Linked DNA regions of Homo sapiens: region 1 is linked to region 2. Evidence: fine-mapped expression QTL. A gene starts in region 2. The other region holds a variant in brackets. All regions are shown on one strand. Distances are between the middles of the regions. Region 1 holds the start of GZMK (granzyme K). Region 2 holds the start of ESM1 (endothelial cell specific molecule 1).

Evidence for each region. PIP is the estimated chance that this variant, and not a neighbour inherited with it, causes the effect.
Region 1: its variant is fine-mapped to the expression of ESM1 in whole blood (TOPMed, PIP above 0.99). The same link has a PIP of 0.9 or more in blood mononuclear cells.

The regions. Positions count from the first base shown.
Region 1 is chr5:55,014,674-55,026,250 of GRCh38, reverse strand. It overlaps GZMK (granzyme K), which reads right to left and starts at 1,995. Exons shown (of 5, transcript NM_002104.3): 1 at 1,865-1,995; 2 at 1,444-1,591. The coding sequence starts at 1,928. It overlaps LOC102467081 (a long non-coding RNA gene), which reads left to right and starts at 2,082. Exons shown (of 3, transcript NR_104662.1): 1 at 2,082-2,322; 2 at 3,539-3,623; 3 at 4,729-4,952. The variant C/T (reference allele first, on the strand shown) is at 4,968.
Region 2 is chr5:54,979,634-54,991,210 of GRCh38, reverse strand. It overlaps ESM1 (endothelial cell specific molecule 1), which reads left to right and starts at 5,618. Exons shown (of 3, transcript NM_007036.5): 1 at 5,618-5,994; 2 at 9,065-9,214. The coding sequence starts at 5,694.

The sequences.
Region 1 (11,577 bases), 35 kb before region 2:
TTCATACACCATGTTTCAGGCCTAGCCAAAGAAAGAAAGAAAGAAAGAAAGATCTTTCAGTGTATTTCTTTCTTTCCATCCAAAGTTTGTTGAACATTTAGAAGTCAAGCTCTGTGTCTGGGGAGGTTATAGACCATTTGAATGTGTATTATGAGCATATTTGAAGATGTGCATATTTTGCATCAAATGAACATTCGCTGACAGTTCCCCACTCTGTCTCTCTGATCTCGAGGGGGCAAATGCCCTGGAGAAGAGAGAAGTGATGGGGATGAGAGTGTGATTTCTATGAGGGCAAGAACCCTGTGTAAATGAAGTAACCATATTAAATTGGAAATCAGTGGCTTGCTATTTAGAGATAGCAGAAGATCTCCCAGTTTGCAGGCTTCAAAACTTCCAATTTGTGATCAAACAGTTCCATTTAAATGGGGTAATCAGACAAAACCCCCAAAGCATAGAAAAGCAAATCAATTCAATTGTTCTGTTTAGATATAGACAATGCCTGGAGAGCAAACCATTACAGCTAAGAGAGATCTTTAAGTGAAAGAAAAGGAGAAGGCTCCATTTCAGCTTATTAGGTAAGAAACATAAGGAAACATATATACAAACAAAAAACAAAACCAAAAACCCAAGCAAACAAACAAAACAACAAATACCAAATTAGTTTTCTACTGGCATTTCCTTTTGTGATGGTTGCAGCATCCCAAGAGGGGTTTTGTGCTTTATTAGCTGAAGTAAGAGAATCCTAGGCTGAAATGGACTTTGGAAGGTTTTACTCTGTCTTCAGAAAAGCTTTCATTCTAAGTATCCTAGAAAATAACTCTCTCATTATCTTTCTCTTTCTAGAAGTCATCAATAACTTGTTTTTTTCCACCTAGGAAAGTTGTAAGTGGTGAGTAGCTACTGTTAGGTAGCTACTGTTAGGAGTGGCAAAGTAGGCTTCTCATGCGTATAATACTAATGATAATAGCTGCAATTTTTTTGTGCTTACTAAATGTGCCAAGCATGCTAAAATACTTAAACAGATACTATTTAATTCTCAAAACCCACAAAGCAGGTATGATATGATTATTACCCCTTTGTAAAATGGGGAAGCTCAGAGCACAGAGCAAGCTCAGGTTGTCTGATTTCCTTTTGAGCAGTGTGATCTAACAAGGTCAAGAGTACTGCTGCTTCAAGTATTACTGTTGCTGTGTTCCCTGCATTATACAGAGGACTTGAATTTGTCTAATGTCTTGCCTGGGAAAAGCAGCTCAGTTCTCTCTGAAAAGGAAAACCCAAGACAGAAAGCGTGGATGTGGAAGAAGGTAAATAAACGCCACCAGTTGGTCAGTAACCACAGAAGCTAACAGTAGATCAAATTCTCATTCAGGAGAGGTAAGCTTCTCTTGTACCTATAATAACTTTCAGAAAAAACACATGTCTGGAAAAGTGTGGAGGACTCACCGATATTGGCAGTGGGCTGCTGTCAGCACCCACTGTGGATCAATCAGAACACCTCCACAAACGTGATGTCCGCCATACTGGATGGAGGCCATAAATGGCCTGGAATGAGGTGACACTTCTTTCCCTCCAATAATTTCCATATTGAAACCTACAAAAGTAGACCAAAAGGTTTCACACAAAAGATCTAAACTACTGTTTCATGTAATTCTTCCAATGACAGTCACTATATTATTTTCAAAGCTTAAAAAACAACAATAACCCTACCTAAAAGCTACAATAATTTTACTGATGAAAAATTTGTATAATACATTACAGTTCAGAAAGATAGGAATGATTGTGAAAATAATTTTCATCTATAATATAACAATATAGTCAGTAGAAATTCATTTAATGTTTACATGTAGATATAGGAGATACTTACACACATGAGTCATATAAGCCCCAACTATTAGGAAAAACAGAGAAAAGGAAGAAAACTTAGTCATTTTAAAGATTTAGATTTAAGAAGCCCAGATGAAATGTGTTGATCCTGTGATGAAGGAAGAAGATTCTGAAGACTGAGTTTTGTTCTTGTAAGTTTTGACTTTCTCACCACAGGTGCTCTAGGGGTAAGATTTTTTTTCACACCTAGGTGTAAACGTTATGTATCAGTTTGGGGACTTTCAGGTCTGTGCTTTTAGCACTTTTTTGTTTTGTTTTGTTTTGAGACGGAGTCTCTCTCTGTCGCCCAGGCTGGAGTGCAGTGGCGCGATCTCGGCTCACTGCAAGCTCTGCCTCCTGGGTTCACGCCATTCTCCTGCCTCAGCCTCCCGAGTAGCTGGGACTACAGGCGCCCACCACCACATCCGGCTAATTGCTTTTAGCACTTTTTTGGGAGAGGTATGTATGCCATAAAGAACTCATATCTGGAGATACCATCTCTAATACCTGTATCAGAGTACTTATGCTATAAAGAAAATTTATACTATATGTGTATATAATATTTATAAATGAAAAATATCCATGCCATAAGAATGTAATGAAGTTGCAGACAGAGTTCAAAGATGTCCATTGCTCTCAAGCAATACTTACTATTTTTCCTGGCACAAAATGGTGCCTATCATATTTCATTCTTCTCTCTTTTTCATTTGGACATAGATTTATGATGAAGAGAGACATGGACCTTGCACAGATTATGGTTACTTCACAATGTGGCTTAGCTAAAGCCTGAGCACCAACCAGAGAAAACCATATGTTTTGCAGCAAACATCCCTACTCATGTCGTTTCTCTAAGTTTGCCCAAATTTGGTTAAATTTTAGTTACATTTTTGTGAGATTTCATAATGTTGTTAAAGGTGAACATTGGCAACTATTTTTGATTCAGAGTCTCTCTTTTACTCATTTTTAATTGAAAATGGCCATGTGTTTTTCCAGGGACTTAATAATAATGTCTTTTAAAAATAAAGGACTGCATTTTGTAATTCTTCCCAGGAACAGATGACAATGCATTGCCAGGCCTTCAATACAAAAGGTATTAGACTCAAGATTCTACAAGATTCTGTTTGTGCCAGACACTGATCAGCAGTGCAAATATAAAATGAATACAAACAGATCACGCATCAGAATGCCAATCACTTCCTAGTAACACTGATCAAAATTTGCATTAAATCAACAGATCTTTCTTTTAAGAGGTATGCATTTTATCTTCCATTCATTTTAGAAAGGAGAATTAAAATCCAGAGCTATTATGCTCGGCAGATTGCAAGAGACTCCTTTCAAATTGTTTTCTAGCACAAAGAGTAGGAATAATAAAAAATAATACTATAATTATGTATTATTCATTATAACTTAATAATATATAAGTAAAATACCTTATTTCCAAAATTCTTTTTATATGATCATTTATGGTTTCATGTCTATGTCTTTGAGGAAAGCAGGACAACTTATGTTACAATGGAAGAAATAAGTTCCAAGAGGCTAAGTAATTTGCCCAAGGCAACACAGCTTATGACCTAGACCAAATCACCTGCCTGACCTCCCTGTATGTTAAGTTGTATGTGAATGAGTACCCTCCCAGAACACAGAATTTTATAAAAAACCTGCTTTCCTTGTACAGGTGTGTGGCAACAGTAAAGCTTTCTACATGTTAAACAGAATGAACAAAACCAACGCAGAGCAGTGACTTCCTGTCAGAGCAGAAGGTGAGATAAGGAGGAGCCAGATTAAGAAAAGCCACAAGCTTAATAAACCAAACTTATTACTCCCACTCAAATGTCCCTGTGAATTTTCAAGTCATCTTTGTCACTGTTGATGTACCTTGGATGCTCTACTGTGTGCCATTGTTCCACATTGGAAGGCAGACAGGATGGCGTCAGTTCCCTGCTACATCCCAGTGATGCTGGGATCGTAAGGAAGATGGTGTGTGACAGGTAGAAGTGATCCAAACTCTAAGGAAGAAATAAATTGTAAAGGACGAAGCTTTGTGTGTGTGTGTGTGTGTGTGTGTGGCGGGGGAAATGGGAATGGTTACAAACATCTCTCAGCTGCTTATTTCTGAGTAGTAAGGATTAATGTCCACATAGCGTTGTACAAATTGCTGAACGTTTTTAGCTGTATTTCCAGGGAAGTGGTTGTCATTAGTCTTGTTTTATGGATAAATAAACTGAAATTCAGGGACTTGCTTGAGATTACCGAGCTAGCAGGTGGCCCTTAAGCTCCTATGTGCTGGCTCCCGGCTCTATGTTCCTTTCAACCTGGCTACATGCCTGCCTCCTTTGAGAAGTCCCTGGGGGTTTAGGGGCTCTGAGACACAAGCTAGCTGTGCAGAAGAGAAAAAGGATTTAGCCATACACACTGCGTGTAATTAGACATGGGTGAGATTTAGTTCAGTTGGGAAGAGTCTCATAACTCTTTCTTGTAGCTGACCTAGAAAATTCTGAGAATCATGTTGGTTAATAGTAATGAGTTATTTGGTTTTGGCTTTAGACCGATTTGCCAGTTAATAGTATCATTTGTTATTATATTCACGATTCTGGATTTGAGAACAGTGGGCTGTGTAACATGATGAGCTCGGCGATCTAATTTATTTCTGGGTGTTGGTTTTTGTTCTGTTGAGTCTGCTGCAGGGAGGGCCATGTTTGCTTTGGATGGCTTTACAGCAACTGTACCGGACTGAGCAAGTGCAAGGCTGTGCTCAGAGGAGGGCTGGCTTCACACGTCATAGCCTTGTGGCTCTTCTTTGCTGTGTTTAGCTGTCTTTCTTGCTGCTCTTAGAGATGTTTTGTTTCTGCTTCTCCTGTGTTTCAGGAGACCCTTATAGAACAGCTGTGCCACTGCTCCAAAGGCCTCGTGTGGTTCTATCCCTTGGACTGCCTTTCTTCAACAGCCCAGACACCTGCTCTGTCAGATTTATAAGCCACACCCCCTAGAGCCATGCCAATCAAAGCATGGCCCGCAGACCTGTGCCAGTCTCCGAACCTCTTTGTTACCGATTTGGAGCAAGATGGGGACAGAAATTGAGAGCCAGAGTTTAGAAACTGTAACAG[C/T]GACTTAACATGGCACTGTATTAATTTATTTTATTAATGAAATAAAATTTGTCCAATCTAATAAAAATTGGGTGTGTATTTTGTATGCCTTTGTTTTTTATTTAATTACTTTTTTCTATTTATTTGTGTTGTATAAACGTATCAGTTCACAATGGGCTGAAACTAAAAACAAACAAATTAACAAACTAAAACTCCAAACACATTGGTCTTTCCCACAGGTAGTCTGAGAAACACTGCTCTGTAGACATAAGTGCAAAGCAGATTTGTTTCAAGCTCTTCCCATTTATTCCCTTTTACATTCCTTTGAAAAATGTTCTCAATATCAAGTTTTCCCAAGCTATCCAACCATCCCCAGCCCTTGGCACTTGACATCAGGATTTGGCAGAATTTCACTGGATCCCTCCCTTGTAGCCCACCACCCTTCAGGCCTTGACTTCTGTCCAGTAATGGCTTAGCTAATTTGGTAAATGTATCTGCTAACACCCATAGTGAAACTATGGCAGCTTTGAAAATTGGGCTTGGGAAGGATATTGGGGTGCTATATAATGATATTAAGTCCGAAGTTCTCAAGAAAATGTAAATCTCACCTCAGATTACAGCCATCCCTCCCACTAGGTCCTTAAAATGAATGAGCTTAAGGGCAGTTGGCAAGGAAAGCAAAGTACCCCTCAACTCAGAGCTGGGGCTGTAATAAGGGTTGGGGCACCTGGAATACTGCCTTTTCCTAAGCAACTTAAATGTAAATACTTCAGAGGGCTGCTCTAGGGCCTCTTCTTGGTGGAATGATGGTGGTGGCAAAGGTGAGATTGAGGGAAATTTGTTTTGTCTTCCTCTATCTCAACTTTAAATCAGAATATATTTTGCATGTTAAATCTTCCTTTCATAAATATGAAGATACGTTTTCTAAACCATCATTATTGAGTTAAGTCACACAATAGTACTTCAACTTCCTTTTCCTTTACTCCTCTCCACGTCAGCTATGAAGTGACTGGAATGGATGAGAATTGCCTTAAGTGCAGGATCCTCACATATGGAGTAATCAGGAAAATACCTTGAGGACTTGGCAAATAGGGATGTCCCAGCACTGCTGGTGCTGGCTGCCTGGTCATACACTGTCCCTATCTCAACTTTGTCTCCAGGCCTTACACTGCCCTTTTATGACTCCTTTTTCTTTTCTTCTTTAGAGCAGGCTTTGATGTTCATTTTAACTAAGTTCAAATGTTATGGGTGGGATGAGGAAAGTGCCACATGGGGTGGTCCCTGTGATGTCGCTGGACTCAAGACAGATCACTCACATTGTCCGCAATTACTTGTCCTGAAAGATTTGCACATGTGGAAATCCTTTCAACAGTAATGACTGCCAAAGGAAGGTTTTCAGCTCCAGGCTCGTAGGTACCCTTGCCTTGCACAGAGGAAGGTGAGGACTATATGAGCCTACCAGTATTATAGGGAGAAAACGGGTAAATATGTAGGCCAAGTTAAGGGAAAAATACCAGAGAAGGACCAGGTAATAAAGACCAGAGGAAAGGTGGAGGCAGGAAGGGAGGGAAGAAAATAAATACTGTTGAATAAAGAAGGAAAAATGATCAATTGAGGATGGGAGGCCTTATAATGGAACACTTCCATTTATATTTGAACATCTCAGATACACTACTGTGATACAGTACTGTGCCCCAAAGCCAAATATGTTATCATTGTTTTACAATAGAAACAGATACATTACAAGAAATAATCTCATCATGCTGAAAGCAATTAAATTGTTTAACTAGTCAGGATGATTTTACAAAATAAACGAAGTCACAGCAGGCAAAGTAGTAGGAATTTCAAAATGAACGACCACATTCATTAATGAGGGAAACACAGTAATTGCTATGGTCAAGCTGGAACACAGCAAGTGTTATCGATTGATTCAGTATTCACTAATTTTCCATTGAGAATCAATTCAAGTAGAAATCTAGATATGATATACTTTTTCCAAAAAGTGACCAAACAACACACACACATACACACACACACATACAACCTTCCCCTCCCACCCTTTTTTCTATTAGGAAATGAAATAATTATATACACTAAATGAGATGGTAAATTAAAAATAATGTTTAAGAGAGGAAGGCATAAAGGAAACTATCAATAAGTTAGAGCATAGAAGACTTTTGTAAGGTAGAAAATACCATAGGCAATATCCAAAGACATATGGCAAAATGCTTGTCACTTACATTGAAAGCATTTCCCCCCAAAGACAATATCTTTAATATATGAAGGGTCCTTATAAATAAATTTAACAATAAGTGGGCTCAATGTGAGCAAATCAATATGAAGACAAATAAAACAGTATTTTAGTTAAACTACCTCACTAGGGACCTGGTATATAAATGATATTTAGAAATAATTTTGATGACTATTACAGGATAAATAATGAAGCACATTTTACATTTTTGCAAGGCTTAATAAACATAAGTTTGATATGCTAAGAACACAACTGCTATAGCAAGTATTTGATAAAAAGGCTGCAGGCTGAGAAGAGATTATCAACAAAAGCATAATCTTCTAAATTTTTTTTTGAGAAGTTACCAAGTATCTTCTTTATTATTTTTAATTAATGAATGAATTAGTTTATAAATTTATACCACATTCAACTTATTCTACTAGGTATAAGCAAATCACATTGAGAATTACAAAAATTCCAGATGCATAGATCGTTCACAGACTATATATACTCCAGTAGGAAATATGAAGGACTTAAGTTGTTAACCATAATACCACATAAGGACAATATGAATGGGAATATTCAGTGCATTAGTTATGTTACAGAAATATGTGCAAATAAGTTTAAAATTAAGGCTTTGATGTAAATATTATAGAAAATACAATCATATATTTGAATTGCTAGTTACACTAGATAATCCCAAACTATATTCTTTTTTTTGTAATTTTTTTTATTATACTTTAAGTTCTAGGGTACATGTGCACAACATGCAGGTTTGTTACATATGTATACATGAGCCATGTTGGTGTGCTGCACCCATTAACTCGTCATTTACATTAGGTATATCTCCTAATGCTTTCCCTTCCCCCTCCCCCCACCGCACAACAGGCCCCTGTGTGTGATGTTCCCCTTCCTGTGTCCAAGTGTTCTCATTGTTCAATTCCCACCTATGAGTGAGAATATGCGGTGTTTGGTTTTCTGTCCTTGCAATAGTTTGCTGAGAATGATGGTTTCCAGCTTCATCCATGTCCCTACAAATGACCTGAACTCATCCTTTTTTTATGGCTGCATAGTATTCCATGGTGTATATGTGCCACATTTTCTTAATCCGGTCTATCATTGATGGACATTTGGGCTGGTTCCAAGTCTTTGCTATTGTGAATAGTGCCGCAATAAACATACGTGTGCATGTGTCTTTATAGCAGCATGATTTATAATCCTTTGTGTATATACGCAGTAATGGGATGGCTGGGTCAAATGGTATCTCTAATTTTAGATCCTTGGGGAATCGCCACACTGTCTTCCACAATGGTTGAACTAGTTTACAGTCCCACCAACAGTGCAAAAGTGTTCCTATTTCTCCACATCCTCTCCAGCACCTGTTGTTTCCTGACTTTCTAATGATCGCCATTCTAACTGGTGTGAGATGATATCTCATTGTGGTTTTGATTTGCATTTCTCTGATGGCCAGTGATGATAAGCATTTTTTCATGTGTCTTTTGGCTGCATAAATGTCTTCTTTTGAGAAGTGTCTGTTCATATCCTTTGCCCACTTTTTGATGGGGTTTTTTTTTCTTGTAAATTTGTTTGAGTTCATTGTAGATTCTGAATATTAGCCCTTTGTCAGATGAGTAGGTTGCAAAAATTTTCTCCCATTCTGTAGGTTGCCTGTTCACTCTGATGGTAGTTTCTTTTGCTGTGCAGCTCTTTAGTTTAATTAAATCCCATTTGTCAATTTTGGCTTTTGATGCCATTGCTTTTGGTGTTTTAGTCATGAAGTCCTTGCCCATGCCTATGTCCTGAATGGTATTGCCTAGGTTTTCTTCTAGAGTTTTCATGGTTTTAGGTCTAACATTTAAGTCTTTAATCCATCTTGAATTAATTTTTGTATAAGGTGTAAGGAAGGGATCCAGTTTCAGCTTTCTACATATGACTAGCCAGTTTTCCCAGCACCATTTATTAAACAGGGAATCCTTTCCCATTTCTTGTTTTTGTCACATTCATCAAAGATCAGATGGTTGTAGATGTGTCGTATTATTTCTGAGGCCTCTGTTCTGTCCCATTAGTCTTTATCTCTGTTTTGGTACCAGTACCATGCTGTTTTGGTTACTGTAGCCTTGTAGTATAGTTTGAAGTCAGGTAGCGTGATGCCTCCAGCTTTTTTTTTTTGGCTTAGGACCGTCTTGGCAATGCAGGCTCTTTTTTGGTTCCATATGAACTTTAAAGTAGTTTTTTCCAATTCTGTGAAGAAAGTCATTGGTAGCTTGATGGGGATGGCATTGAATCTATAAATTACCTTGGGCAGTATGGCCATTTTCACAATATTGATTCTTCCTATCCATGAGCATGGAATGTTCTTCCATTTGTTTGTATCCTCTTTTATTTCATTGAGCAGTGGTTTGTAGTTCTCCTTGAAGAGGTCCTTCACATCTGTTGTGAGTTGGATTCCTAGATATTTTATTCTCTTTGAAGCAATTGTGAATGGGAGTTCACTCATGATTTGACTCTCTATTTGTCTGTTATTGGTGTATAGGAACGCTTGTGACTTTTGCACATTGATTTTGTATCCTGAGACTTTGCTAACGTTGCTCATTAGCTTAAGGAGATTTTGGGCTGAGACAATGGGGTTTTCTAAATATGTAATCACGTCATCTGCAAACAGAGACAATTTGACTTCCTCTTTTCCTAATTGAATACCCTTTATTTCTTTCTCCTACCTGATTGCCCTGGGCAGAACTTCCAACACTATGTTGAATAGGAGTGGTGAGAGAGGGCATCCCTGTCTTGTGCCAGTTTTCAAAGGGAATTCTTCCAGTTTTTGTCCATTCAGTAAGATATTGGCTGTGGGTTTGTCATAAATAGCTCTTATTATTTTGAGATACGTCCCATGAATACGTAATTTATTGAGAGTTTTTAGCATGAATGGCTGTTGAATTTTGTCAAAGACCTTTTCTGCATCTATAGAGATAATCATGTGGTTTTTGTCTTTGGTTCTGTTTATATGCTGGATTATGTTTATTGATTTTTGTATGTTGAACCAGCCTTGCATCCCAGGGATGAAGCCCACTTAATCATGGTGGGTAAGCTTTTTGATGTGCTGCTGGAGTTGGTTTGTCAGTATTTTATTGAGGATTTTTGCATTGATGTTCATCAGAGATATTGGTCTAAAATTGTTTTTTTGTTGTGTCTCTGCCAGGCTTTGATATCAGGATGATGCTGGCCTCATAACATGAGTTAGGGAGGATTCCCTCTTTTTCTATTGATTGGAATAGTTTCAGAAGGAATGGTACCAGCTCCTCCTTGTACCTCTGGTAGAATTTGGCTGTGAATCCGTCTGGTCCTGAACTTTTTTTGATTGGTAAGCTATTAATTATTGCCTCAATTTCTGAACTTGTTATTGGTCTATTCAAGGATTCAACTTCTTCCTGATTTAGTCTTGTGAGGGTGTATGTGTCCAGGAATTTATCCATTTCTTCTAGATTTTATAGTTTATTTGCATAGAGGTGTTTATAGTAGTCTCTGATGGAAGTTTGTATTCCTGTGGGATCGGTGGTGATATCCCCTTTATCATTTTTTATTGCATCTATTTGATTCTTCTCTATTTTCTTCTTTATAAGTCTTGCTAGTGGTCTATCAATTTTGTTGATCTTTTCAAAAAACCAGCTCCTAGATTCATTGATTTCTTGAAGGGTTTTTTGTGTTTCTATCTCCTTCAGTTCTTCTCTGATCTTAGTTATTTCTTGCCTTCTGCTAGCTTCTGAACGTGTTTGCTCTTGCTTCTCTAGTTCTTTTAATTGTGATGCTAGGGTGTCAATTTTAGATCTTTCCTGCTTTCTCTTGTGGGCATTTAGTGCTATAAATTTCCCTCTACAAACTGATTTAAATGTGTCCCAGAGATTCTGATATGTTGTGTCTTCGTTCTCATTGGTTTGAAAGAACATCTTTATTTCTGCCTTCATTTCGTTATTTACCCAGTAGTCATTCAGGAGCAGGTTGTTCAGTTTCCATGTAGTTGTTTGGTTTTGAGTGAGTTTCTTAATCCTGAGTTCTAGTTTGGTTGCACTGTGGTCTGAAAGACAGTTTGTTATAATTTCTGTTCTTTTACATTTGTTGAGGCATGCTTTACTTCCAACTATGTGGTCAATTTTGGAATAAGAGCAATGTGGTGTTGAGAAAAATGTATATTCTGTTGATTTGGGGTGGAGAGTTCTGTAGATGTCTGTTAGGTCCGCTTAGTGCAGAGCTGAGTTCAATTCCTGGATATCCTTGTTAACTTTCTGTCTTGTTGATCTGTTTAATGTTGATAGTGGGGTGTTAAAGCCTCTCATTATTATTGTGTGGGAGTCTAAGTCTCTTTGTAGATCTCTAAGGACTTGCTTTATGAATCTGGGTGCTCCTTTA
Region 2 (11,577 bases):
AGCAGAATCATTTCCTATGATTCTTGTGTTAATCAGAAATTCTATCTTTCTAAAATTCCTAGTGGAAATTCCAAATATCTTAGCAATAACTTCTAATATGACTTTAAAAATCTATGTTCTCTAGTTCTAGTGTCTAAATGACTTCCAATGCCTACAGTAATTCTTTAGTCATGTAGGAAACTGGTGACACTTTTAAAAACTCTTTTAGCAGAGAAGTTTAGTGAGCTGTTTAGTCATCCCATGCTTGGATGGGGCGAGGCAGGCTGCTAGGAGGGGTGGTGGAGTTTTCCTAAGGAAGAATGTTGAAACTCAGTCATCATGGTTTGCTGTGAATTAAGTGAATGAGAAACTAGACCATCTTGCAGAATGTGAGAGGAATGGAGGAATGCGTGAGACCTGAGAGAGCCACTGGTTTATTTTCTCTCATGGTTTAATTTGTCTTATAGAGTAAGTAATAATGTTTTACACCTGTACAGTAATTTAGTTGGCATCATGTTTTTAATCCACATTCTCCTTTGATCTCAACATCTCTTTGAGAAAGGGAAGGCATTTCTCTCCCTTATATTTTATTAAAAGAAAATGACTTAATGTTAATGAGGAGGCTGGTTGGTGCCTTACCCATAGCTGATTATGAAACTGGGATGCCAACCTACGTCTTCTGGTCCTGAGTTCAGAGCTACTTTTGCTACTCACATTGCTTCTCATGTCAGGGTGGCACATGGTGCTTCTGGATGTGGGTTCATATTTGCAGCTAGAGGGATGCTGTGTGAAACAGGAATCTCTTGCTGATGGAGTCCGAGATTCAGAACCTGATTTGAGAAGGAGCTAGCTGTTAGAAAGAAAAGCTTGCCTTGATGCCCCACATTAGAAACTGCCAGAACTGGGGGCAAAGAGGAGAAGAAGGCACCTCAGTGAGTAAGAGCTCTTCATGTTTCCAAGCCAGACTTCCTGGCTCTAAAAAAGTTCCTAGCAGCGTGAACCCAAAGTTGAAGTTTCTAGATTTGAACAGGGTTAAAAAACAACCTGACTCTGTGGCTGCTTCCTCAGAGGCTCCATTGGAGTAAAAATCTGGATATAGTGCCAAGTTCTCTGAGAGGTGCCCAGACATTCTGGGTTTGTAGCAGACACTGCGGGTGTCCTGTCCTTATCTTCTTGCAGTCACTCACACACCCTCACACTCAGGGCTCCTGCAGAGCTCTGTGTGATGGCACCCCAGCTGCCTACGAGGTTGACCTGCTCATCAAGACAAATCAGAGAGCCCCCATATGGGCAAGAAGCCTAATTAAAGCAGATGCATTTCACTTTGCTCTTCTAAGCAGGTGTAGTTTTTGAAAATTGCCTGTAAATCATATATTGGTACATTCAATTCCACTTTGCTATTAAAATTGTCTTTATTAAAAATAGAAACTTAAAGAATTAGAGAGATTTCTTTTGGGAAAATATTTGCTCCAAGACATAAGATCACATTTAAAGAATGAAGCCAATCTTCAGAAATCAGACGCTTGATAATAATAGTCACGATGGTTTCATATCTGTTGCCCTGTTTGGCCCTCTTATTATTGAGGTACTGAGGAGAAAGGAGAGGTCTAAGGTATGTGGCATGTGACTTGCCTAAGATCACATATCTTGGCAGTGGTAAAGCTGTTTCTAGGCAAACTGTACTCAGGGCAGGAGGCTCTGGGAAGATTCCTCAGGCCCTGGGCTTTGACAGCTGACCTGTGACTGCCGTGAATCCCAGCCAGTTTGGCAGAAGTATTTCACCAAGTTCTATTGGCTATGAGGGGCTCCCATGAACTTTCCAGGGTGGATGTGATATTGCCAAGCCCAAGGTCAACAGGACAAATTTGGTTAGCTGTGAAGGAACTGCCGCAATGGGACTACAGTCTTTGCTCAGGCTCCATCCAATCCTCGATGTCTCTTGGATTGGATGTGCTGTTTCTTGACACCTCTACCTCATTCCCACAAGTAAACACATTCTGCAGCTTAACCTAGCCTGCCCTAGAATCTGGGCCTCACTTTGCTTCTCCTGGTGGAAAGAGAAAGAAAGGGAACACATTGATGCCCGTTTAACTTACTATCATCTGAAGATGATTCTGGGAAACAGTTGGTTCCTTTTATGTGTTTATTAAGTATTAAGCTCCTGCTGTGGGCTAGACCTTGCAGTAGGCACATGCAAAATTGCTATCAGCTAGTGTCAAAGCAGGAAGACTTTCAGATGGTATCAAAAACCACAACCAAAACTAACCTAAAAACCAAATCACCTAAAATCTGCATGTAAATGTCTCCACTTGCTCCTCCAAACTTTATGCCCTCAAGTCTGCCTTTGTAATTCAATTTAAACCAGACTTCTCTGGTAGAGCTGGTTTGTTAGGAAGGCACAGTAAGTACGGTATAATTCGCTTTACCATAAACCACCTTCTGAGAGTCTGGGATCTGCCCAGAGCCTTTCCACTGGACTACTTTTACCTATCCAGAAAAAAATCCTTGTTATTTGGTTAGAAGCAATCATAATGTACAAAATAAACACAAAATATTAATGCACATTACCAAAGCTTATTTTCCTAACACAATACCAGCTTTAAGAAAAAAATCAAAGTGGCATTTTAAGTATACAGGGTATACTGGGTTAAATAGATATTTGGTTTTATCATTTCTCTGCCCCCATTGCAAAACACCATATGCTGCAACATTTGGATCCACAGATGGTATGGTTTGACCCACCTTAGTTTGAACTTACATTTTAGGAGTTGTGAAAATCTTGTGCAATTCCTCTTGCCCTTTCTCACTCTGACTTGACAACTGATATACAGGCAGAGCAAGATGAGAGATGTTCCAGTCCCCAGCACAAAGCAAGTGAAATGGGTGGACCTCATGCACTCACTATCAACAGCTCTGCCATCATCTTATTGCTTTTTAATGCAGCTTAGAGTTGGCTCCTTGGTTGCTCGTGCTCCCATTTCCTAACCCTTTGTGGTCATTGCTAACTTTCCTAATGGAATTCATTGATCTGGGCTCAAGGCTCTGGGGAAGACAGAAATCACTAGATAAAAATCTTACAGGGATTGTGTTGGGACAAATGGTTTTTGTTGGGTCTTGGAGGGATTGAAGGTTCCCCTAAAATGAGTTGTTAGGCACTGTGTATTGAGATAGTTCCACCACTGGTGAACTCTATTGGGCATATTTTCTGCACTTACCTGTGCATTGTAGTTTGGTTTACTATTTGGATTTGGTACTCTCAACTTACATTTGTTTAGTTGTCATTTACTGAAGGTATTATCAATTTGGTTTCCCTTTATCTTCCATAGTGGAAGAGTTTCATGTCTTTATGTGCTATTCAGGAGGACGAAATCCACTCCATTCCTTCTGTATTACATCTAGTATAGCTTACCATGTCACCCACCTTGGGCACCTGTTTGGCACCTGTATGTATTTGATTTTACAATCCTTAATCCAGTCTCCAGAGCTTGTTGGTCTCAGGGCTGGAGTCCTGGCTTCACCATTTGCTAACTGTGTGATGATGGACAAGTTACTTACCCTCTCTAGGCCTCAGTTTTCTCATATCTAAGATGGGGATAAGAATAGCACCTAGCTCTTGAGGTTGTTTTGAAAGTTAAATGTGGTAATCTACATAAACTGCTTAGCATGGCATCTGGCACACAGTCAGATCTCTGTAAAGGTTAGATATTATTATTAACCACTATTCCAGTTAACTACTCCTCAGAAAGTGGTGTTCAGTAACAAGGGACATTTTCTAGGGTCAGCCTAAATTGCGACCTAGGCCATTGGAACTATTGGCCATGAAAGCACAATTATGTATTGTAATAGGCAATAGAATATGTGGCTCTGACATTAGACTAACATCCATCCCTTCAATATAGGGACCTTAGGCAAATTAACCTCTTTCTTACTCAGTTTCTTCTTTTAAAAAATAAGCATGATAATAGCAGCCACTTCATAATATTGTGATGAGGTGCAAATGAGTTAATGCATGTAAAGTGTTTAAGCTATTAACTCAACAAATATTACCCATTACTGAAAACATCAGAGTGTGCCACCTGCTAAGTAAGTGCTTCTGGGGAGATAGAGTATTTCAAATTGGATTGTCATGAAAAATTTGGAAAATTTGAAAGCTAAAACTCTTGCTTTCATTTCCTACTGCCTCAATTCTCTGTATTCTGAATTTACTCCCTGTGTCCCCCTAAAATTGCATTTGCAAAAGCCGATCTTCAAGTTACATCCAATGCCCGCTCTGCCTCATCTTCTATGGGAAACAAGAATTTTAGAGGTCAGGTAGCCTAACACCATCAATTCTCAAAAGAGGAAGCTGAGGCCAAGAGAAGTCCTGTGAATTTCTTACAGCTCATTTGTGACAGACCAAGAATTACCCACTTTACTGGGTTGTTATTTACTAAGTGACAGTGAGTCTATATCTCTTTTGACAAGTGAGGTGGGGGCATGGAATTCGGCATGTGGTTGGTGTAAGAACTCCCCTCTCTCCTCTTTAACCTTACTTAATAAGACCCTGGCACAGTTGATATTTTAAGAGGGCTACTCTGTTTTCCCAGAGGGACCTAGGCACGGTAACCCTCTTAGCATGCAGACCTTGTTTCCTGAGGGGTAATGTTTCCCTTCCCTGTGACTTGTTTCTTGGGGGCTGTGTTCTGATTTTCCTGCTGAGCCACTTGTTGCCTTGGGCTGGCTGCCGCGCTTGGCAGTTTTTAGTGAGGGCTCTGATAGATGCCAGGAGGTGAGGGGAAGGGCTCTGGGTGGACTCCGTCATTGGACAAGCAGACTTAGTGATGGATGAGCCTTCCCCTGAGGAAGTTTTGGATCAGAAGTCCAACTGATAAGTTTTTCCAGAATTGAGTAACCCAGAAGCAGTGCCGAAAGGATCTTACCTCTCTTGTGGCTTTTTGTATTGATTTTAAAAGAAATTCTCAGAGGCAGTTCCACATTGTACTGGAAGCACAGCTATATCCACAATAGGCTTAGATATATGTAACATGAATTGCTTTAGAAATAACATTTGAGGAGAGGGGTGAGAGGAAGGAAGAGAGGGTCTTAAAAAATAGCCCTATCAAAATATTTTCTTTCTTCTAAGTATTGAAAAGACACAATATAACCCTTTCTTCTTTCAAATGATCTCATAGCTATTTGTTGAGGGGAAATACCAAATGTTTATTATTTTTTTTGAAGAAGCTTCTTCGGTCCTGATGATTCATGTTGATATCATTTTCCTCCTGACTACAGAGGCTCTGAGACAAAGCTACACCTCAAGTGATATGCCAGGGTCAGAACAATTCCCGTCCTGAAGGAGGGTGTGCAACCTTCTTTATCCCTCCTTCACAGACGTCCTTGAGCCCTTGAGACGGATGTGAGTGAGTTTTTCAGTCCTCATGCAAAACAACCATCTAAACATAACAGATGACATCAGCTTGGGCTTTTCAATTCCTGGATGGCAGCAGCGTGTTAATCCAGCCTTCATCCTGGATTTCATAAACCAAAACAAGAGAGCCTGGCAGGAGGACAGCGCTGCTGCTGGGTTGAGGAAATTGATGACGGGAAAGCATGCGGGCAACCCAGTGTATAAAACTCATAAACGTGTAGGCAGAGGCTCAGCTACCAGTTTGGACGGCTGCTTCCCACCAGCAAAGACCACGACTGGAGAGCCGAGCCGGAGGCAGCTGGGAAACATGAAGAGCGTCTTGCTGCTGACCACGCTCCTCGTGCCTGCACACCTGGTGGCCGCCTGGAGCAATAATTATGCGGTGGACTGCCCTCAACACTGTGACAGCAGTGAGTGCAAAAGCAGCCCGCGCTGCAAGAGGACAGTGCTCGACGACTGTGGCTGCTGCCGAGTGTGCGCTGCAGGGCGGGGAGAAACTTGCTACCGCACAGTCTCAGGCATGGATGGCATGAAGTGTGGCCCGGGGCTGAGGTGTCAGCCTTCTAATGGGGAGGATCCTTTTGGTGAAGAGTTTGGTATCTGCAAAGGTAAAGAGTGACCCCTTACCTCTCCCCTCCCGGGGCATGCTGAGAGCTTTTAGCCAGCTTGGGAGGTGAGGTGGCTTTGCTCCTCAAGAGTAAGAGGGAAAAGGCAGGTGGATTCTTGACAAGGCACCACACAGGTATTGTCATGGGTAGAGACTGAAGGATAGCTCCAAGTAGCAACTGAAACCAGTGTGCAGGAAGGCACAGAAAGAAGTGTGGCATTTTACTCGTTGCCTTAGGAGATCGCAAAAAGAAAGCTGCAATGGAAGATTGTGTTGGCTCCTTTTCTGGAAAACTTTAGAAACTTGACAGGTAATCTGTTAAGGATGGCTTAGGTGCTCTCTCCTCTGCGAGGCAGCGATTACAAAGGTCTGCACTAGATAACCTCTTGGAATGGTTTCTAGCCCCCAGATTTAGTGATTCTTTGATCTTGAAAGGGTCCACAGGATGGAGGGCCACTCTCAAGATCAAATATTTCTGATAAACACAAATGCACTTTATGGAATAGAGTGAGCTTAAGTCATCTAACAAAATAACTCACTCTTCAAAGAGGGTCCCCTGAAGCATAAAACAAACCTCATCTGACTTTATAAAGGTTTTGGTCATCTGGAAAAATAGCAGATGGTGTTAAGACAAGGAAAAATAACAATAGAGAAAAATAAAAACTGGAAGTCTGTAAAGAATGAGGTTGACCACTTGTACACTTAAAGAAAAACTTCGTCGGTTGAAATTTTAGCTAAATAATGTAGTTAAGCATTTGTAGAATTTATTTTAAACATAGTAACTAGTTTAAAATATTTAACATTTTAAAAATGTTTAGAATAAAAAGAATGATGATTTAAAAATACTCTACGTATAGATATCTCATGATCTTATTATGAAGAGCTATTATTAAGAAGCAACACATGCTATAACCCCATCCATCAGTTGTGTAATACCAGGAAGCTTTCAAAATTATAAAAAGGACTGAGAAATTTCTAAATAATTATTATGTTTTATGTATTTAATACATTTTTTATGAATAATATTTATCCAGTATTGTGCTAATCTCATTAATTCTCCTACTTCTTAGACATATAATGTATAAATTAATCATCTTTTAATTTGCAAGACATACAAAATTAAAAAAACAAATTCTTAAAGTATTAGGAGAGTTTTATTTTTTGCTTAGTTTATTTTTGTTTATATACAATAAGAAATAGAATATTGAGAAAATATTTTGTTTGGTGAACACATATGCATGTTTCTTTCAACTGAATAGGATCTGTATATTTTGTAAATTATGGGGCTTATTGACCAAGAAAACAGTACTTCACATAAGGAAATTAGGGAGGAAGTGGTTAACACAATCATACTTATGATATAGCATGTATATGCAGTGGATTGCTTTTTCTCTTGGCATAATATGCCTTTGTACATGTGATTGTAAATGTACATTACATATGGGCAAAGAAACAAGCTGTGTGGCATCTGGAGTCTTTAGCACTGTAGTATTCTACTGAATGATCAAGATACTAAAAAGATCTTTAAGATTGCTTCTTTTGGCTTTCTTCAGGTTGCTGATGAATCTAGTTTTAAGCATTTTTCTCTCTGCTGGAAATAGGAGACTTTGTGAGCCTTAGCAACTCGAGATAGAGATAATACATTTGGCAATCATCTCCCTTCTTCAGCTTTTTAAAAGAACATCCACGTGAAAACTGTAAACTTCAGCTGCGTATCCAAATGTCTTCTAAATATTCAGATGTCTGTGAACATCTTGCCCAGATTAACAATCAGCAGCCAACACATATTTAATGAACACTTACTATCTGCCCAGCACTGTTCAGTACATCAGGGGATACACTAGAAGTATCTCTGGGAATTTGGCTAAAGTTTTAGTTTTCAATATCGCTGCAGGCACAGTCAAATCCTAATCCTGTGTGCTTTTCTGGAACAGGCCTTTGCAGGATCCCTTTTTAAGATCTCTTCTTCCCAGCAAAGAGAACAGTGTTCAAAACCAGGTTCCTCTGTGATCTGAACCATATTGAAAAGAGCACTCATAGATCTCTTTAAAAAAAGATAGCTCATTGATGATCTACTTGGTCAGTTAGTGGAGTATTAGACTGCTAGAGACTCAGATGGCTCACAATTTGTTCTTTACCCACCTGTGATTGTACATTTACAAGGTATTTTCACAACAAGAGAATATTCTATATCTATTCTGCTGGCTTTTAAAGGTTGGTTAGTCTACTGAGATGCTGTTTATCCTAAAAACAGCATTTTAAATAATTTTATGCATTTTAAATAAACGACTTTGTCCTCTTTATTTCAATGTAGGATGTTTTGGCATAAGTGTAAGCACTGGAGGTCTAAAAGCTTCTAGTTCTTGGTAGGTGTACAAACCCTCAGGGTGTATAAGCCCTGAGCTTTCTTGCTCATTTAGCATCTTGCATGTTAGCCTTGCAGAGGATTTTACTAGGGAGCCCTCTTAACTACTGAGGGAGTCAGGCAAGTTGTATGACATGCCGTTTCGACAAATAAGGAACTTGATAAGGGTTGGAGCAGATGGAAGATTGATTGCTTCATGGTGAGCTAGGATGATAGCTCTCTCCCTGGTTAGTTTGAAGCCCTTTCCTATACACTTAAAATAGTAAATTATCTGTGAATACAGTAGATTCAAAGATAGCATCACATTTTAAAAACTCTTTGAGGAGCTGATGCATATATGTCTGTTCAATTTCCCACCTTTGCTGAGCTGTTACAGAGGTCATCTGTGAGAATTTATTGGTATCTAAGCAGAACATCACCAGAATGAAGACTGGTCCAAGGAGACTGGCTGTGTGTAGCTGTCTTCAACTTAACTTTACATCACAACACTAAGCCCGAGGCATCCATTATCTGTTCTTAATGTGTGATTTCATATTTATGACTCAAAGTTTCAACTTTCAAATCCTGGGTTTGGAGAATTGGATTTTACTTTACAGTCAAGGTTCATGAGGTTGGTTCAAATCGCAAGGCTATGCACCCAGGGCTGTTAGGATGGAGACGTATTTACAACAAGCAGCGTCCTCTCCAACCTTTCCTTTGTCCCCAGACTGTCCCTACGGCACCTTCGGGATGGATTGCAGAGAGACCTGCAACTGCCAGTCAGGCATCTGTGACAGGGGGACGGGAAAATGCCTGAAATTCCCCTTCTTCCAATATTCAGTAACCAAGTCTTCCAACAGATTTGTTTCTCTCACGGGTAAGCACTGATTCTGGTATAAGCATTGGAAGAATAGTCTCATTTCAGTGTGAATAACTTAGAAAATATCTGTGAGTAGAATAAGATGTGGATTGGAATGATTTTATTTCCTTTGCTTTACTCAGGGGAACGGTGGGTGGTAGCTGAGTTTGGTTGCTGTTGCTGTTTTCTAAAAAGAGCCCATCAATAATTTTGAGGTTTACATATAATTTCTCATAAAGTTTACCTGGTTTAAATATGATTTATAGGAGGATAAATATGATTGATTACCAAAAATCTGTAATAAAAAATAACCAACTGAGATACACAAAGTTCTTTAAATTCTTCAGTGATCTGTTTTATATATTTACTAGACAAAACTATTTATCTCCCAACTTCACATAGAAAAAGTACTGTGAGGAATTTATTGGATAAGCTTTAAGAGTCAAGATAGAAAATATAGAACGTTTCTTTTTTTTAACCAAATGAAAGCATTTAAGTGTAATAATTCCAAGTGTGTGTTTTTATGGATTTTGGAGAGGATAAGAAATAGTATGTGATTGAAATTTTGGAAATGAATGAAACTGTAGTAATACGTGCTGCTTGTTAGTCCGTGTGTATTTCTTATACAGGTGTTAGAATGTGAGGAATACACAACCTATGAGATGGTGCTATGTACATATTTGTTTATTTTGTTGAATAGCTGGCCAGTACAGGAGAGTTCCATTAAACTGAAAGTAGCTCATTTAAAGCAACATACATCACTAAAGCTTAGGCCTCCATTGCACAGAATGGCGATTGTAGTTAATAATTCTTATATATTTCAAAATTGGTAAAATAATAAATTTTAAATGTTCCCATCACAAAAAATAAGTATATGAGGTGATGGATATGCTACTTAGTTTGAGTTCATCATTCCACAGTGGAGATATATATCAAAGTATCATATTGTACCCTAAATGTATACAATTATTATTTGTCAATTAAAAACTGTATTTAAAATTATAAAAAATAAATAAATAATAAGCCCAACATATAGTCACAGAGATGGCTAGTATCAACAAATGATATACTTTTTCCCACCACAACTATAAATAACAATTCAAGTCCATTTTATTTAGTTTTTGCTTTTGGTCTTTTGCATTTCAAGTTAATAAAATATAAACTATTTGGCAAAGGTGCTTGTTTTCTAATTTTACCTCCTTCTTATGTATGGGTCAACTAAACACATTAAAATGAAGCGGAAATATCGTGCTTTTAAGTGAATTATTAGTTTTAAGTATGGTGATGCCCATAACAATACTTACATTATAGGTTACACAAAAATATTTCCACATCAAAGTTAGGCATTGAGATTCTTATCAGAAATATTTGAAAAAAGCAGTCAGTTTCTCTCTTTTCTGACCTAGGGTATTTCCTTTCATTAGCTAAAGGTGCAACCAGCAAAAGATGATTTTTAGTGTGATCTTGGTAAACCTTAGTCAGGTTCAGGATGGAGAGCAGAAAACCCTAAGGACCTCTTGGGGAGGCTGCCTAGGGTTCTTTGTAGTCTACATGTGTCTTTGAGACTACATGAGACTTCCAGGTTCATGCACTGGAGTTTACAGGAGAAGGCTTGGGCTTCACTCCTGACACAGGCTTCACATCACCTCTGCACAAACCTGTTTGGGCCCAGCCTTTGAGAGCAGGCTAAATGGCTGCAAGCTTCACCAGCACTAGGACCCCCAGAGCACGAGCTTGTCTTCTCCAACTTTCCACCTGCTGGCTACAGCACTCTTGTCAAATGTGCTTCCTGTCCACAGTGTTCCACTTGGTGTTCTTTTTTTTGGCAGTGAGCTTCCCAAGTTGGGAATTCACAAGTAAGTTTTTGTGTACGAGGGTCTTGGGGGAGTAAGATCTGGAATGTTTCATGGACTTACACACATTCGTCTGCTGGGCCACGCTAATCTTCTTAAAGCATTCCACATCAGAATGTGCACTGCCAAAGCAAGCACACCTCACTACTCCTTGAAGTAGAAAATTTCATTTTAGCAAATTTCAAATATTACAAACTTTTCTCATATGTAGAGTGAGAAGTGTCTTTATGAACGTTCTACCCATTGGTCTGCCTTTTGCCTTCTGGATGCAGCAAAAGTTAATCTGTCTTTCATACCAGTTAGTGTAAGAATCTAACTTGAGACCTGTTTGTACAACATTTGCCTATTCCATAAGTATTTATTAAGTGCCTACTATGTGGCAAGCACTGTCCTAAGTGCTGGAGATATAGCAGTGAGCAAAATAAAGTCCCTACCTTTGTGAAACTGGAATTCTAGTGGTGGAGTGAAATAATACACAGGAAAAAAAGACAAATACATGTAGAAGATAATGTCAGGTGACGATAGGTA